Homo sapiens: one gene and its partners. The protein of the gene in region 3 purifies or fractionates together with the protein of the main gene of each other region. This does not show direct contact. Each region holds a gene or a part of one and is shown on either strand. Other genes may lie near its edges.

The links. The genes of interacting proteins can lie anywhere in the genome.
Region 1: the proteins of PFKP (region 3) and MCMBP fractionate together in Homo sapiens (co-fractionation; one large-scale study listed by BioGRID). This does not show direct contact.
Region 2: the proteins of PFKP (region 3) and MTHFD1 fractionate together in Homo sapiens (co-fractionation; one large-scale study listed by BioGRID). This does not show direct contact.
Region 4: the proteins of PFKP (region 3) and ARHGAP1 fractionate together in Homo sapiens (co-fractionation; one large-scale study listed by BioGRID). This does not show direct contact.

What each region holds. Positions count from the first base shown.
Region 1 is NC_000010.11:119,831,892-119,834,843, reverse strand, and holds part of MCMBP (mini-chromosome maintenance complex-binding protein), read left to right. Parts: intron 1-2,743; coding exon 2,744-2,832; intron 2,833-2,952. UniProt on the Homo sapiens protein: Associated component of the MCM complex that acts as a regulator of DNA replication.
Region 2 is NC_000014.9:64,422,853-64,426,352, forward strand, and holds part of MTHFD1 (C-1-tetrahydrofolate synthase, cytoplasmic), read left to right. Parts: intron 1-1,951; coding exon 1,952-2,079; intron 2,080-2,877; coding exon 2,878-2,975; intron 2,976-3,166; coding exon 3,167-3,340; intron 3,341-3,500. UniProt on the Homo sapiens protein: Trifunctional enzyme that catalyzes the interconversion of three forms of one-carbon-substituted tetrahydrofolate: (6R)-5,10-methylene-5,6,7,8-tetrahydrofolate, 5,10-methenyltetrahydrofolate and (6S)-10-formyltetrahydrofolate.
Region 3 is NC_000010.11:3,105,548-3,110,990, forward strand, and holds part of PFKP (ATP-dependent 6-phosphofructokinase, platelet type), read left to right. Parts: intron 1-1,666; coding exon 1,667-1,762; intron 1,763-3,153; coding exon 3,154-3,246; intron 3,247-3,807; coding exon 3,808-3,933; intron 3,934-5,443. UniProt on the Homo sapiens protein: Catalyzes the phosphorylation of D-fructose 6-phosphate to fructose 1,6-bisphosphate by ATP, the first committing step of glycolysis.
Region 4 is NC_000011.10:46,676,620-46,680,119, forward strand, and holds the end of ARHGAP1 (rho GTPase-activating protein 1), read right to left. Parts: intron 3,158-3,500; coding exon 3,029-3,157; intron 2,850-3,028; coding exon 2,746-2,849; intron 2,607-2,745; coding exon 2,418-2,606; 3' UTR 461-2,417; downstream 1-460. UniProt on the Homo sapiens protein: GTPase activator for the Rho, Rac and Cdc42 proteins, converting them to the putatively inactive GDP-bound state. Cdc42 seems to be the preferred substrate.

The DNA.
Region 1 (2,952 bases), about 120 Mb from region 3:
GTCATCCAGGCTAGAGTGCAGTGTTGTGATCATGGCTCACTGCAGCCTCAACCCCCCCAGGTTCAAGCGATCCTCCCACTTCAGCCTCCTGAGTAGTTGGGACCACAGGCATGTGCCACTGTGCCCAGCTAATTCTTTGTTTTTTGGGTTTTTTTGTTTTGTTTGGGTGTGTGTGTGTGTTTGTGTGTGTGCAGATAGGGGATCTCTTTATGTTGCCCAGGCTAGTCTCGAACTCCTGGGTTCAAGTGATCCTCTCTCCTTAGCCTCCCGAAATTCTGGAATTAGAGGTGTGAGCTACCTCGCCCAGCCCTCTTTTAAGTTTTTGTTTATCTGGGAATGTCTTAATTTCTCCTTAAGGCTAGTTTTGCTGGATGTAGAATTCTTGGTTTATAGTCTTTGTCTCATCATTTCGAATATGTCCTCCCACCACTTTCTGGCCTCTGGTTTCTACTGAGAAGCCAACTAGTTTCTGATAAGGATCCTTTGTACACACTGAGTCATTTTTCTGTCACTGCTTTCAAGATTTTGTGGCTTTTGACAGTTTCGATTATGATGTGTCTATGTGTGGATCTCTGAGTTTATCCTACATGGAGTTTGTTGAGCTTCTTGGAGGTGCAGAATAATTCATATTTTGGGGAAGTTTTCAACAAGTTTGGGAAGGTTTTGGCCATGTTTCTTTCTGCCTCATTTCTCTCTGCTCTCCTTCTGACACTACCACTGTGTATCTGATGTTGCATTTAATGGTATCCCACAGGTCTTCAAGGCTCTGTTCATTTTCCCTCATTCTTCTTTTTTTGTTCTGTTTCTTAGACTAATCTCAGTGAACTTATCTTCAAATTTAGTGATTTTCTTCTGCCTGATCAAATCTGAGCACCTCTAGAGAATTTTTACTATATTTTTCAACTCCAGAATTTTTATTTCCTTCTTCTAAAAAATTATTTCTCTCTTTTTATTGATACTCTCTATTTGGTGATTCTCATATTTTCCTGAAGTTCTTTTTATGTGGTTTCCTTTATTTCTTTGAATGTTTAAAATAGCCAATTTAGAGTCTTTTTGTCTAATGTTTGAGTTTCCTCTGGGACAGTTTTCTACTGACTCCCTTATCCCCAAAGTGTGAGCCATACCTTCTGGTTTCTTTGTACTTTTTTGTTGAAAACCAGACATTTTATTTGGTCAGTGGGGTCTCACTGTATCACCCAGGCTGGAATAGTAAGTAGCACAGCCACAGCTCACTGCAGCCTTAAACTGCTGGGCTCAAGTGATCCTCTTGCCTCAGTAGCTGGGACCATAGGTGTGCACCACCATGCCCAACTAAAGTTTTGTTTTTTTGTTTTTTCTTTTCTTTTTTTTTCTTTCTTTTTTTTTTTGTAGTGATGAGGTCTTGCTTTATTGCCTAGGCTGGTCAACTCCTGGCTTCAAGTAGTCCTCCCACCTTGGCCTCCCAATGTGTTGGGATTACAGGTGTAAGCCACCACATCTAGCCACAACCAGACATTTTAAATTATATAATATGGCAACTCTGCTTTGGAAGTTACTCTGGAAATTAAACCTCCCTAGGGTTTATTGTTGTTGCTGTTTGTTACTGTTGGTAGGTTGTTTAGTAACTTTTTTGACTAATTCTATAAAGTCTGTATCTTTGTCACATGTGGGCACTGAAGTCTCTGCTCTGTTAGTTTTGTGGTTAATGATTGGAAAGAAATTTCCTTAAATGCTGGGTAGTAGTCTCCCAGTCTACGGGTGAATAATAATCATAAATAAAAATAAAAGTTGGGGCAAGCCCTCAGTTCAACACTTAGCCATGCAATTTACAAGCCTTAGCCTTCATTTCCTGCTCGCACAGAGCCTCCAGGTCATGCAGAGGTGGGAGCTATGGTCTCTGAGCATGTCTGCAGCCTTCTGAGTTCCTAGGAGTTACATACTTAAGGTTTTCAGAGCCCTCTACAGACATGTCATTTCCCAGCTAGCTTTTCCATTGAAGGGTTTGGGTTAGTCTGTCTGCCGCAGCTGTTACCCAGTGTCTCAGGTAGCTAAGGTGATTGGTAATTTCTTCCGATTGTTTTTGATAAATGCCCTGGGGAAAGAGGTGGTTCATAGTAGACAGGCTTCCAGTCAGGTTAAATAAAGACAACCTTGCAAATGGGTCCTTCCAGGGAGCCACCAGACAGGTGGTCAGATGACAGTTCTCCGGGAATGGCACTTGGAAGGAGCCCTAGCCCTGTTCTCTCTCCGGTGGCTGCCAGGCTGTTGATTTTTGAAGCTACTAATTATCGCCTGGAGGGGAAGGGGTTGGAATTTAGGAGTAGGACATGTTAAAATGCTGCCAGGCTCAACATTCTTACCAATAATCACCTGGTTTTCTTGCATAAATGCTCTCTGGATTGCTGCAAGTATGGTTTTATTTCTAGTTTTTAAAAAGCTGATTTTGATCAGTGTTAACAGTAGAGACAGTTTTCTGCGGTCCCTTCTCTGCCATTTTCACTAACATCACTCTTCCTTTGTGGAAAAGCATTGTTTCCTATGCCAGTTGCTGATTTATATGTTTGCTTGACCTTAAATGAATCTGAGTTTCATTATTTTATTTTCATCAGCAGCATTATGTATGTATATGCTTTGGTACTTTCACCCATATTGCCTCCTTTGTCTAAGAGGCTGACATGCACCTTACTACATCAGTCAAGGAACCATGTTAATTTTCTTTTCCTTACAAAAATGCACATCATTTACATTTACTCTTTTGATAAAGGCAGTTGAAGATGACTTTGTGGAAATGCGGAAGAACGACCCTCAGAGCATCACTGCTGATGATCTTCACCAGCTGCTCGTGGTGGCTCGGTAAGTGGCGCACGTCCATTATTGCTGTTTCGGTAAGCTTGTGTATATGTCTTCTGAGTTATTCAGCAGTAACTGAGGCAGAATTCTAAAAACGGAAATGAACTTTTCCTTTTAAAAACG
Region 2 (3,500 bases), on a different chromosome or scaffold from region 3:
CATCCTATCCACGAAGCACTGCATGTTTAGCAGTGTCTCGTCAACCCTGACAGTATTTGGTTTAGGAGCAAAACTGAACTCACCAGTGCTGCGTTTAGTCATGTAGTCAAAGATATGTGTCTCTTACCTGTGGGAAAACGAAAATGACTAACATTAACACGTAGAAATAGATGCAGCGGGTATTTCAAGCTAACTACAGTGTGAAGACGATTGAAACTTGTACAGAGGGCAAACCTCTATCTATATTTCCTTGGCATTTTGAAATGACTCTAGGGGCTGTAAGAGGAAATGTTCTGCCAGTTTGCTGCTTTATAATCTTCTAGAAACTTGAAACCATCCCAATGAGTTGTGTTGACCAGCTCCTTTTACTCCATATAAAAAATATCTTACGTATCTGTGGTGGAAAGAGAAACTCTTGCGTTTGGAGGCTGCTTTTTCAATTTCAGTAATGTACACATTTTCTCATTTTGCCCTCAGCAAATTTGTGATAGGTAGTGTTAAGCCTTCTTTGCATTTTGGACTTCAGATTAATATGGAGCCCACAGGAGCTGCAGAACTAACTTTTTTTTTTGAGACGGAGTTTCGCTCTTGTTGCCCAGGCTGGAGTGGAATGCTCACTGCAGCCTCCGCCTCCCGGGTTCAAGTGAGTCTCCTGCCTCAGCCTCTGAGCAGCTGGGATTACAGGTGCCCGCTACCAAGCCCAGCTGATTTTTTAATATTTTTAGTAGAGACGGGGTTTCACCATGCTGGCCAGGCTGGTCTCGGACTCCTGACCTCAGGTGATCCACCCGCCTTGGCCTCCCAAAGTGCTGGCATTACAGGTGTGAGCCACCACACCTGGCCCTAATTTTTAATAAAAGAGCTGATGCTACAGCTAATCTCTTTTTTTTCTGAGACAGAGTCTCGCTCTGTTGCCCAGGCTGGAGTGCAGTGACGCAATCTCCGCTCACTGCAAGCTCCGCCCCCCGGGTTCATGCCATTCTCCTGCCTCAGCCTCCCAAGTAGCTGGGACTACAGGTGCCCGCCACCATGCCCAGCTAATTTTTTTGTATTTTTAGCAGAGACGGGGTTTCACTGTGTTAGCCAGGATGGTCTTGATCTCCTGATCTGGTGATCCGCCCGCCTCGGCCTCCCAAAGTGCCTGCTAATCTCTTAATTCTGGCTTCTTGCCTCCACCTTGGAGCTTCTTCTCAGTTGTGGCGATCTGATCAGAGAGAAGTGGTGATGTCGCTAAAACTACCAGATGCAGCGCGGGAGCCTTATTGCTTCGAGGTCTAGGCCCGCCCCCAGCCCCTCCTGGAAGTGCACTGAAGCCAAGTGTAGGATGTTCTTTGTGTGAGTGAGCAATGATGCATCATTGGGTTTTGTTCTCTTGAATAGCTATTCTTTGCTGGTAAGATTTGTAGTTGTTCTTGTGTCCTTTTAAGGGAAGTGTAATTATATTCTTTGCCTTTAGCATACATTTAAGTAGCTGTGTCTTTGGAATTGGATGTTGAATTGTTCCTCCAGCTCACACATGGAGCTCACAAAATGCTGACAGTTGCTGTAGAAACGATATCTGGCAGCTGTGACAGAGTTGGATCTTTGTGCACCCAAAAAATTTCCTTTGTAGGCTTTAGCAAATTAACATTTTAAAATGGGTGCTCATTATATACTGGGTAGTTGGTTTTAAGAATAAAAAACAGTTGGTATTTTATTTGCCACCTGAGAGACTACAAAAGGATTCTCCAGGTTCTGTAAAACCACTTATGCATCTTGTGAATTTTTGCAGGTAAAATAATTTTCTCCCTAAGAAATAGCAAACATCTGTCATTCCATAGCTTTTAAGTTAAGTAGGCACTGGAGCCTGATGGGACTAACACACCCTACAATTCTGCTGAGTTTTTGTCGTAACTGATCACCAGGACTGTGATTCTGAGACTTAGTTTTGATTTCTCCCCCACTTGACCAGATGATAAAAAACCAAATGGGAGAAAAGTTGTGGGTGATGTGGCATACGACGAGGCCAAAGAGAGGGCGAGCTTCATCACTCCTGTTCCTGGCGGCGTAGGGCCCATGACAGTTGCAATGCTCATGCAGGTAATTGTGAATAAAAGTTTCTATAAGAGTTCTGAAAAGCTGATCGAGTTTTGGCTGCTTTTCTCCCCAAGTAGAAATGTCAAAAACCTACTCAGAAGTAAAGATGTGAATTTATTGAGAAAAAGGGAAGGGAAGAATAGAGAAATAAGATCAGGCACATTAATAGAGGAAAGTAGGGATGGCATAATTCCAGTCTGTTTTGGAATATAATAACTTTGAAAGAAGAAAAGTGCGATCACACTGGCTTGGCCAGGTCTGTTTTGGTTTGCCTTCCCTTTCTTTTTTTTTTTTTTTTTTTGAGACGGAGTTTTGCTCTTGCTGCCCAGGCTGGAGTGCAATGGTGTGATCTTGGCTTACCGCAACCTCCATCTCCCTGATTCAAGTGATTCTCCTGCCTCAGCCTCCTGAGTAGCTGGGATTACAGGTGTGCACCACCACGCCCGGCGAATTTTGTATTTTTAGTAGAGACAGGTTTCTCCACGTTGGTTAGGCTGGTCTGGAACTCCCGACCTCAGGTGATCCGCCCACCTTGGCCTTCCAAAGTGCTGGGATTAGAGGTGTGAGCCACCGTGCCCGGCCTGTTTTCCCTTTCTAACATGCACCAGCTGACAGGGGCCAGGCGAGCAGCCCCAAAGCATGTTAGGTGCCTCTTGACTCTTAGCTAGGATTGAAGCATGGTAATAAGTGGGTCTGAAGCAGTTCATTTTGTGATTGAACTGGAGTGACCTGGAGCTTGAAACTGAGGTGAGGATTAAAATAACCACCTCTTCTAAGTTTCATTTATTTCATTTTGCTTAGAGCACAGTAGAGAGTGCCAAGCGTTTCCTGGAGAAATTTAAGCCAGGAAAGTGGATGATTCAGTATAACAACCTTAACCTCAAGACACCTGTTCCAAGGTAAAAATAAAGTTTTACTGATTTAAAACTTTGTGAATTGTTGGTTTTTAGTTGACAGATACTGTGGGTTCACATATGCTCCCTCTGAAGGTGCCTTCAGTGGTTGGGGTTGGGTTGGGGGCTTGTTACTACTGTGGGATTAATTAAACTCAGTGGATAAACATTAATACCTATTTTCTATGTTTCCAAAGTGACATTGATATATCACGATCTTGTAAACCGAAGCCCATTGGTAAGCTGGCTCGAGAAATTGGTCTGCTGTCTGAAGAGGTAGAATTATATGGTGAAACAAAGGCCAAAGTTCTGCTGTCAGCACTAGAACGCCTGAAGCACCGGCCTGATGGGAAATACGTGGTGGTGACTGGGTATGCTTTTTATTCATGTTGCCATCCAAATCTTAGTATCAGTCCTGATACTAAGGCGTTGCATTTGCACTTGGCACATGTATGTAGAGGTGCCTTTAATTTGATTTTAGCATTTTCACCCGTATTTGATCTCATTTGATCCTTACAGCAATCCTGAGAG
Region 3 (5,443 bases):
TTGCTTTAATCAGGATCCCAAGTGGGACGGCATTTTAAGCAAGTGAAAAAATTTCTCTGTCTCCAGTTTGTCACACTTTGTATTTCACTCTATGGACTGTGAGCGTGGGGCATGTTTTCCTCTATGAAGGCTGAGACTCAAGGCAGAAGAGGTTTCATTTAAGACCTGAGGCTGAGACAGAGTGAGCCTGGTTAGAATGCCCCATGCGTGCCTAACTCCGGCAGGCAGACTTCAGGCACTGTTGGCTCCAGGCTCCACACAGCCACCCCTATCATTTTCTATGGGTGGGTCTTTAATTTGGGGCTTAATAGAAAGCGAGTCCATTGAGGATGAGTTAATCCACATCATGGAGTGGTCGCTATGTTCCTTTCATGACCTCTTTAGGCTCACGTGACTGCCGTGAGCATAGGAAGGACGACGGGGACAGCAGCCACGGTGGCCCAGCAGTGTGAGGCCTTTCGGGTGCAGCTGCAGCTGCCAGAAACCCACTGTCTGGGCCCTGTGTCCGCTCACGCCGTTTTCTCTCTCCCGACTCTCTGCTGCTGGAGCCTGTGTGCAATACAACCTCATCCCAGTGGCCAGGCTTCGGGGCCTCCCCTGGGAGGGCCGGGGAGGAGTGGTTCACAGGGAGATGGCAGGAAACTCTGGAGGGAGGCAGAAAGCATGGCGTGCACGGGGCGCCTGTGGGGCGTCCACCTGTGTGTCCTTCCCCATGGGAGGCAGAAAGCATGGCGTGCACGGGGCGCCTGTGGGGCGTCCACCTGTGTGTCCTTCCCCATGGGAGGCAGAAAGCATGGCGTGCACGGGGCGCCTGTGGGGCGTCCACCTGTGTGTCCTTCCCCATGGGAGGCAGAAAGCATGGCGTGCACGGGGCGCCTGTGGGGCGTCCACCTGTGTGTCCTTCCCCATGGGAACCCCTGTCAATCACACCAGCACCCTCCACCTGGGGCTGACTGGGGGCCACATTTCTATCTGCGGTGGTGATGTGAGCTCCCAGTCCCAAAGAGCTCTCTTCCAGTGAGCCACAGCCGCCCTGCTCCTTCACCCCTGCCCCTCTCCTCACCCCTGCCACTGCCCCTTCACCCCTGCCCCTCTCCTCACCCCTGCCCCTCTCCTCACCCCTGCCCCTGTCCTCACCCCTACCCCTGTCCTCACCCCTGCCCCTCTCCTCACCCCTGCCCCTGCCCCTTCACCCCTGCCCCTCTCCTCGCCCCTGCCCCTTCACCCCTGCCCCTCTCCTCGCCCCTGCCCCTTCACCCCTGCCCCTCTCCTCGCCCCTGCCCCTTCACCCCTGCCCCTCTCCTCGCCCCTGCCCTGCCCCTTCACCCCTGCCCCCTCCTCGCCCCTGCCCCTTCGCCCCTGCCCCTCTCCTCTCCCCTGCACTGCCCCTTCACCCCTGCCCCTCTCCTCACCCTGCCCCTGCCCCTTCACCCCTGCCCCTCTCCTCGCCCCTGCCCCTCCTCTCACCCCTGTCCCTCCCTGCTGTCACCCAGCACACCTTTCACCACCTTCTGATGTCATTGGGAAGCAGCTCTTAGGAAGTTAGGCAAAGATTCCTGCCCAGAAAGAGGCCAGTTCAGTTTGAGACAGACTTCTGTGGTTTTGTTGCATTTGTTGCTAAGAACAGGATTAGGAATTTGAGAGCTTTAATTTTCTGTCTCCACAGAACCGTGCCCGGAAAAAAAGGCTGAATATTATTATTGTGGCTGAAGGAGCAATTGATACCCAAAATAAACCCATCACCTCTGAGAAAATCAAAGAGGTGAGTGTGTGTAGCTGCTCACTTTCTCTCGGTTTCTGCCTGGAAGCAGGGGAGGCTAGCGTCATGGGCAGGCTTGGTTTAGAACATTGAATTATTAACTTTTTATCCTTGATATTTAAAACATTTTCATAATGACTCAGAAGTTGGACGGCAGGGGAAACACGCAGCTCCCGCTCCTGGGAGCCCATTCCGCTTACGTCACCTCTTGCCGAGCCCGTAGAGGTTCCGGGACTCCCCAGCAGACAGAGGGGGTCAGCTCGAGTGGCCACGCGTGTTCTTTGGATTAGAATGTTCCGGCTCTTAAACATGAGCTGCTCTGAGAATGAGGACTGACCACTTGGCAGCCGACCCGGGCTTCTGTTTGCCACAGTGGGAAAAGGCGGCGTCTTGCTATTCCCTGTGCCCTCCCATAACCCAGAGCATCAGCTGAGCACATTCTTACAAAGCCACTGTGTCCTCGTGGCCCTGCCTGGGAACAGGCTTTGGCAGGCTTTGGCAGGCTTCGTGCCCTGGGACTTGCTCAGGCCAGTGCCTGCCTGTCTGGAGAGGACTCTGATACCATGGGCTGTGCCCCTGCTGTAGACGGGGCTGCAGGCTGCCGGGGCTGGGGATGGGCTGTGGCTCCAGCAGCCACGGGGCAGAAGACGTCCCCACCTGGCTTTGCAAGTCGGCTTCTTTATTGTGCTTTGTTATGGTCAGTTAAGGAGCAAAGCATATCTCTGGATATGAAAACAGTGATGGACACCTGGGAAAGACATCTGCCAATATTTATAAGTGGTCATCCATAAAGTCCAGGCAAAGATTTTATTTCCCGCTTAACTGTAATTAAATTATAGGACAATGGACCGAGAAGGAACCAAGGAATTTACGTAGCCCAGCCCCACTGTCCTTACAGAGGAATAAGCTGAGTTCCAGAGACAGTCAGTGGCCTCTCCAGATCACCGGGCCGGTGTGCCCATGGGCTGGGGCGAGGGGAACGCCTTGATTGGGCTGGCTTGTGCTGTTCAAATCACAGCTGAACAAATTAAAGCTGGTTCAAGGAAGATGTTTACATTTTTTGTAAAATATAAGTAATAGTTTAAATGCAAGCTACTGAAACGTTACTTTTTTATTTTTCTTTTTTAAAGCAACGAACATATTACTTGTATTCATTTTCTAGGTGCGAGCCAAGATCTTGTCTGGTAACAACAGTATTATTTTTAAAACCAATTTTCAGCTGCCTGTTATATACACTAAACGTTCTGCTAGGAAACAAAATTTAGAAATAACTTTTCCCATTTAGATCTGAAGAAAGAGCGAAAAACCTTTTCCAGTGCCCAGTACCTCCTTCCAGATCTGGGCTGCTGTGTCCGCATCACAGTTCCGCATCCTAACGAGATGTTTCCTTGCAGCTTGTCGTCACGCAGCTGGGCTATGACACACGTGTGACCATCCTCGGGCACGTGCAGAGAGGAGGGACCCCTTCGGCATTCGACAGGATCTTGGTGAGTTGGGAAGGGTTGGGCATCTTCACAAGGTCTCTAGGAGGAAGCGTTTCTGGAGAGGCACAGGCACCAGCCGGCCACAGAGGCTGGCAAGGTGCTCCCCGAGAGATGCCCGCGGCCCGGCCCTCATCTTAACGATCCTTGAGACCTTTGGTGTAGACCAGTCTCTAGGCCTGCAGCCATTCAGATGCGGGGAGAGCTCCCTAATGTGGGAAGGCAGTGCTTGGTGTTGGCACGACGTGGACCCCAGAGGGCACAATCCCAGGGCAGAAAGGCTGTGTTTCTAGTGAGTTTCTGGAAACTGACTCAGGGCAGCAGGAATCCCAAGTACAAACCCTCAGTTCTTAACACTCCTGCTCTCCATGTGCCCTGACCTCCTCTCTGTTCCCGTCTTGCCAGTTCTAAAGGAGTGGAAATCGCTTTGCTCTAAAGAGTTGGGCTGGAAGCGGGAGGGGCTGTGAGCACCTGACTGAGGTCATTGGACGTCATGGAAAGATAGGAGGTGACAGGGACAGGGCAGGACGGGAGGCTGCCCCTGACCCACATGGACCTGGTTTCCAGGCCAGCCGCATGGGAGTGGAGGCAGTCATCGCCTTGCTAGAGGCCACCCCGGACACCCCAGCTTGCGTCGTGTCACTGAACGGGAACCACGCCGTGCGCCTGCCGCTGATGGAGTGCGTGCAGATGGTGAGTGGGCAGCCCATGGCCAAGGGCAGGGCGGAGACGGCTGGGACAGAAGCTGCTTGTCAGGCCAGCCTGGGCACCTTGGGTGTCTCGTCGGTGCACGATGCATTACACGGCCTTTCTGAGAAGGAGGTGAGCTGCCCGTGGGGAGGGAGAAGGCTTATGTTCTCTCCCACACCTGCAGAGCCTGCGCCGTCTTCGCTCTTTGGTTTTCTAAGTTACCATCCATCTGTGTGGCACATAGTCGTAACCTCCCCTGAGTGGGGGTCTAGAGCATCGGGATCCTCAACAGTCGAGGATCCAGGTGGCCCCAGTGCACCAGGTGCTGCAGAAGGACAGAGTGCAGGGAGGCAGCCGAGAGAGAGAGATCCGTGGACAGACTGCAGGGAGGCGGGCGTGAGAGAGACCCATGGGGCAGAGGGGGCAGGGAGGCAGGGAGGCGGGCGTGAGAGAGATCTACAGGGTGGTATTTTGTAGGGGAAGGTGGGACCTTCCCAAACTTCTCCAGTTTCAGCCATTTCCTGTCCTCCTATCCCCAAGGACATTCAGGTCTGTGATGGGACACAGGGAAAGCTCTGGTCACCCGAAGATACACCCACCCTTCTTGGGCCAGGGAACTGTCTGCCTGCAAATGAACAAAGGGAAAAGCAGTTCCAGCTTTTCAGGCATTGGTTCAGTAGTGGAGGTGGCTGTGGAGTTAGCTGCATTTGAAGTTATTTAATTAATTAATTTATTTATTTAGAGACGGAGTCTCACTGTTGCCCAGGCTAGAGTGCAGTGGCGTGATCTTGGCTCACTGCAAGCTCCGCCTCCTGGGTTCACGCCATTCTCCTGCCTCAGCCTTCCGAGTAGCTGGGACTACAGGTGCCCACCACCACGCCTGGCTAATTTTTTTTTTTTTTTTTTTTTTTTGTATTTTTAGTAGAGGTGGGGTTTCACCGTGTTAGCCAGGATGGTCTGGATCTCCTGACCTTGTGATCCATCCACCTCGGCCTCCCAAAGTGCTGGGATTACAGGCATGAGCCACCACGCCCAGCTGTTGTTTTATTTTTCAGAGTTCATTCATGATTCGTGACTCCTGTTTTGTTGCCTCTTAACACACACAAAGAAGTCGTGAAGCAATCAAGTCAGGGACTTGTTGAAAGTCACCTTGTAAACATAATTTCCAAAAGCCCAAGGGAGAAAATAGTATTTGTGTGTATGTGTGTGAGTGTGTGCGCAGGCTTGTGTCTCTGTGTGTATGTATGTATATGTGTGTGCATGTGTATCTCTGTATATGCATATACATGCAGGTTTATGCATATATTTATGCATGTGTGTGCATGTTTGTGAGGTAGTTTGGGTCTGCATGTATGTGTATGTTTATATGCATGAGTATGCATGTTTGTGGTAGTATGTCTGCATGTATGTGTGTGCATGTTTGTGTGCATGCATGTTTGTACGTGTGTGCATGTTTTTGTGAGGTAGTGTGTGTGCATGTTAGTGTGTGTGCATGTGTGTATATGCATGTGTA
Region 4 (3,500 bases), on a different chromosome or scaffold from region 3:
GAGCCAGTGATGATGACTGTTAGCGGTGAGAGCTGGCACGTGAGGGAACGAGGACTCAAACTCTCGTGTGACTCCAGATCCCACACCATTGTCCATCACAGTCCACACCACTTTTCTTCCCCCTGCTTGCCTTAGATAAATCTAAGATCCCTTCAAACTTCCGGTACCTTCCAGTTGGGAAACAGGAGAGGCCCTGGTCATAGGATGCAGCACATGGTGGCCTGCTGGAATGCTGGGGGTACAAACAACGGGAAGGTGGCCGTGGACACCTCCATGCCTAGAAGCTGGTCAGGAAGCTGCCCTCATCACCACTCGAGTGCACAAGATGAGGAAGCGGCAGACGGACTGGGGAGGGGACTTCCTGAGGCCCCATCTGTTCCTCTTCCTCCACCGCACCACACTTCCCATCCAGTTTCCAACTTCCACACCCAACTCATTTCCCCAACATCCAGATGAGCAGTTTTGCATCAACATTTTTATTGAAATACAAAAAGTGCAAACGGTGAAATACATGATTGGTGCCAAGGAAGTCATTAAGTGTGAATGTGAACACTGGATTCACACAGTACAAGCACCCGCTCCCTGGGGTACAGACCAGTGGGGGACATGAGAAAGACCAAATAGATCCGAAAGGCTCCCCAGTGAATGGGGCTGTGAGCGACACTTGATACACAAAGGAGGGCGGAGAGCAGAGCAGCCCTGGCCGAGGCTAGAGACCAAGGGACTGATGAAGAACCAGCAGCAGCCCAGGCCCCAGGGGGCTGGATGCACTGCTGATGGTCTTGGGAGAGCCCAGCGAAGTTATGCCCAGGCCCAGCCTGGCTTGCGGATGGGGCTGGGCTGGTCAGTGAGGATCCCCACAGTACGGGCTCTGGAATCATCCTGCCTGGCCAAGGTCATGGGGGCAGGGTCACTGCAGGTACTTCCCTGTACTCCCCAAGGACAAGGCTGCAGGAAGAGGGATCCCCAGGAAGGAGTGTAATTCTACGAGACAGTGGGAGTGAGATCAGCCATCACTGGGGCCGAGGTTCTTTGAAAGACAACAGGGCTGGCCGGGTGCAGTGGCTCACGCCTGGAATCCCAGCACTTTGGGAGGCCGAGGTGGGTGGATCATGAGGTCAGGAGATCGAGACCATCCTGGCCAACATGGTGAAACCCCGTCTCTACTAAAAATACAAAAATTAGCTGGGCATGGTGGCATGCACCTATAGTCCCAGCTACTCAGGAGGCTGAGGCAGGAGAATTGCTTGAACCCAGAAGGCGGAGGTGTGCCGAGATCGCGCCACTGCACTCCAGCCTGGTGACAGAGCGAGACTCCATCTCAGAAAAAAAAAAAAAAAGGTGGCCCTAGAGCCCCTTAATCCCCTGGGGAAATTGCTAGAACCCACCTATCTGGACTGACCTATCAGCACAATCTCTGCCCCTCCTACGGGCACTCTTAGTCTCTACCCCAGCCCCTTTAAGAGTCCCCCAGCTGGAGGAAGGAGCCATAAGATCCTGAGGCACTGAGTCACCTCTGGCTGGGGCAGGGGCCAGTGTGACTCCGTAACAGACAGGTCCACAAGAACATGAAGGCTGATGATCTGCCCGTGTGGGAAAGGAGGCCAAGAGGGGAGAGGCTAACCTGGCCGGTCACTGATTCCATCACACGCTGTAGCTCTCGGGGGCGGGGAGGTGGAGAGGGAGGTTTCAAGTGGATGCTGGGACTCTGAGCCATGTCATCCAAGCTACCAGTCCCTGCACAACCAAGGGGTTAGGACACCCCAGGGGCAGTATCACTTGGGAAAGGCTGACCCAGGATGTGTGGAAGAGGAGGCAGAAAGCAGACACAGTCTCCAGCCCTGTCACTCCTCAGCAGGGGAAATACCCCAGACTGCGCTGCTGGGGGCAGTACAGGAGCAAGGGTGCTTGCACTCAGGCCTTCATGCAGTGGGGCTTCTGCAAAGCAGGGCAGCCTACCAGATAGGGAGGCACCTCAGCTTGGGGCGGTGTCCACACCAAAGAGCTCAGCTGCTCATTCCCAGCAATCAAGAGGGGAGGACTGGCCCCTGCTACCAGCCCAGCCGGCAGTCATTTGATTCATCCACACTTGCTAGGGAAACAGAGGCAGGAAAAAGCAGGAAAGGGGTTACTGGGGCTCAGTCCTTCTCCAGCTGGAAGAGCCAAGCCCAGCTCTGGAGAGCCCAGCAAAAGCCCGGTGTCCAGAGAGGCAGTGAGAAGTGTAAGGCAGAGAAAAACGTCTTCTGGTAACAGCGAGGCCGCCAGGGCCGTGAGGCGGGCTGGACAGAGGTGGGGGAGAGCATGCCTGATGGGTGGCTCCAACATCTCTCTCCAGGGGGCTTCATGGCCCCTGATGCCAGGAGGAAGAGTCCAAACCCGGGCTACCAGAGAAGGGGCTGGTGGGGCAGGGGCCAGGTTCAGAGCCCGCTGGGGTCCGGGCTTGGGAACAGCTCCCCTTGGTGATCCAGAAGGAACTTGGTGAAGGTGTTGATGGGATTAATGGCCTTGAGGGTGATGGCCGCATCCTTGGCCCACAGCAGGTTAGGGCCGAAAACAACAGCCAGGTTAGTGTTGGTCATCTTGTTCTGGTCACTGTGTGCAGAAATCTGTGGAGGGAATCAGGGACTGCAGCAGGAAGCCACAGATGCTGCCTCCCACTCCCAGCAACAATGACCAGGGCGCAGAGGAGGCGGCAGCTCCTCCTTCCCCCTCCCTTCACCCCAGAGGCCAAGTCCAAGGTCTCACCTGCACCAGGAAAGCAGTCAGGAAACGAAGCACCTGGTAGTTCTCCTCGGGCAGCGTCTGGAGGACCTGCAGTGTCGCTGGCACCCTCTGGCTTTCATCAATGTCTATGAGGAAAGGAGGCCCGGGTTATAGGGGCCCTAGGCTGGGCTGGTTCAGGACGCTCTGATGCAGGCTAGAGGGGAGACCCCCAGCAGTCTTCCCTGGGAGGCGCCTAGGCCCGAAAGCCTGCAGCGCACCTGCCCCAAGTCCAGCCCCAGGCCCAACAGAAGAGATGGGGACTCACTGAGGAAGCCCACCACATGGGGGTAGAGGTCAAAGGTGAGCAGGGGCTCAGGAAGCTCCCGGAGGAAGGTCTTGAGGATGACTGCTGGCAGGTGCAGCTCATTGTACTGGTCGAAATCCACAGGCAGCCCTGGGGTGGGGGCAGCGTGAGAGAAGCTCGGCACAGCCTGAAGGGCAGCACCCATCTGCAGACAACGCGGGCCGCACTGCCTGACTGCCCCTGGACACTGCATAAGCCCCTCCTCCCAGGGGCGCCCTCTGACACCTGCCTCCCTCTTCCTCTGTGATCAGAGAATGCAGGTTCCGGCCATCTGGGGAAGTGGGGCCCGGCACACCCCACCGTTATTCCTTGCCTCTGAATGTGCCTATACCCAGGACCCGGGAGCCCGACCGATGAGGCAGCAGGCCTGGCAGAAGTAGGACTTATGTGACACCCAGAGCCACGGAAACCTCCAGCAGGAAGAGACTCTGAG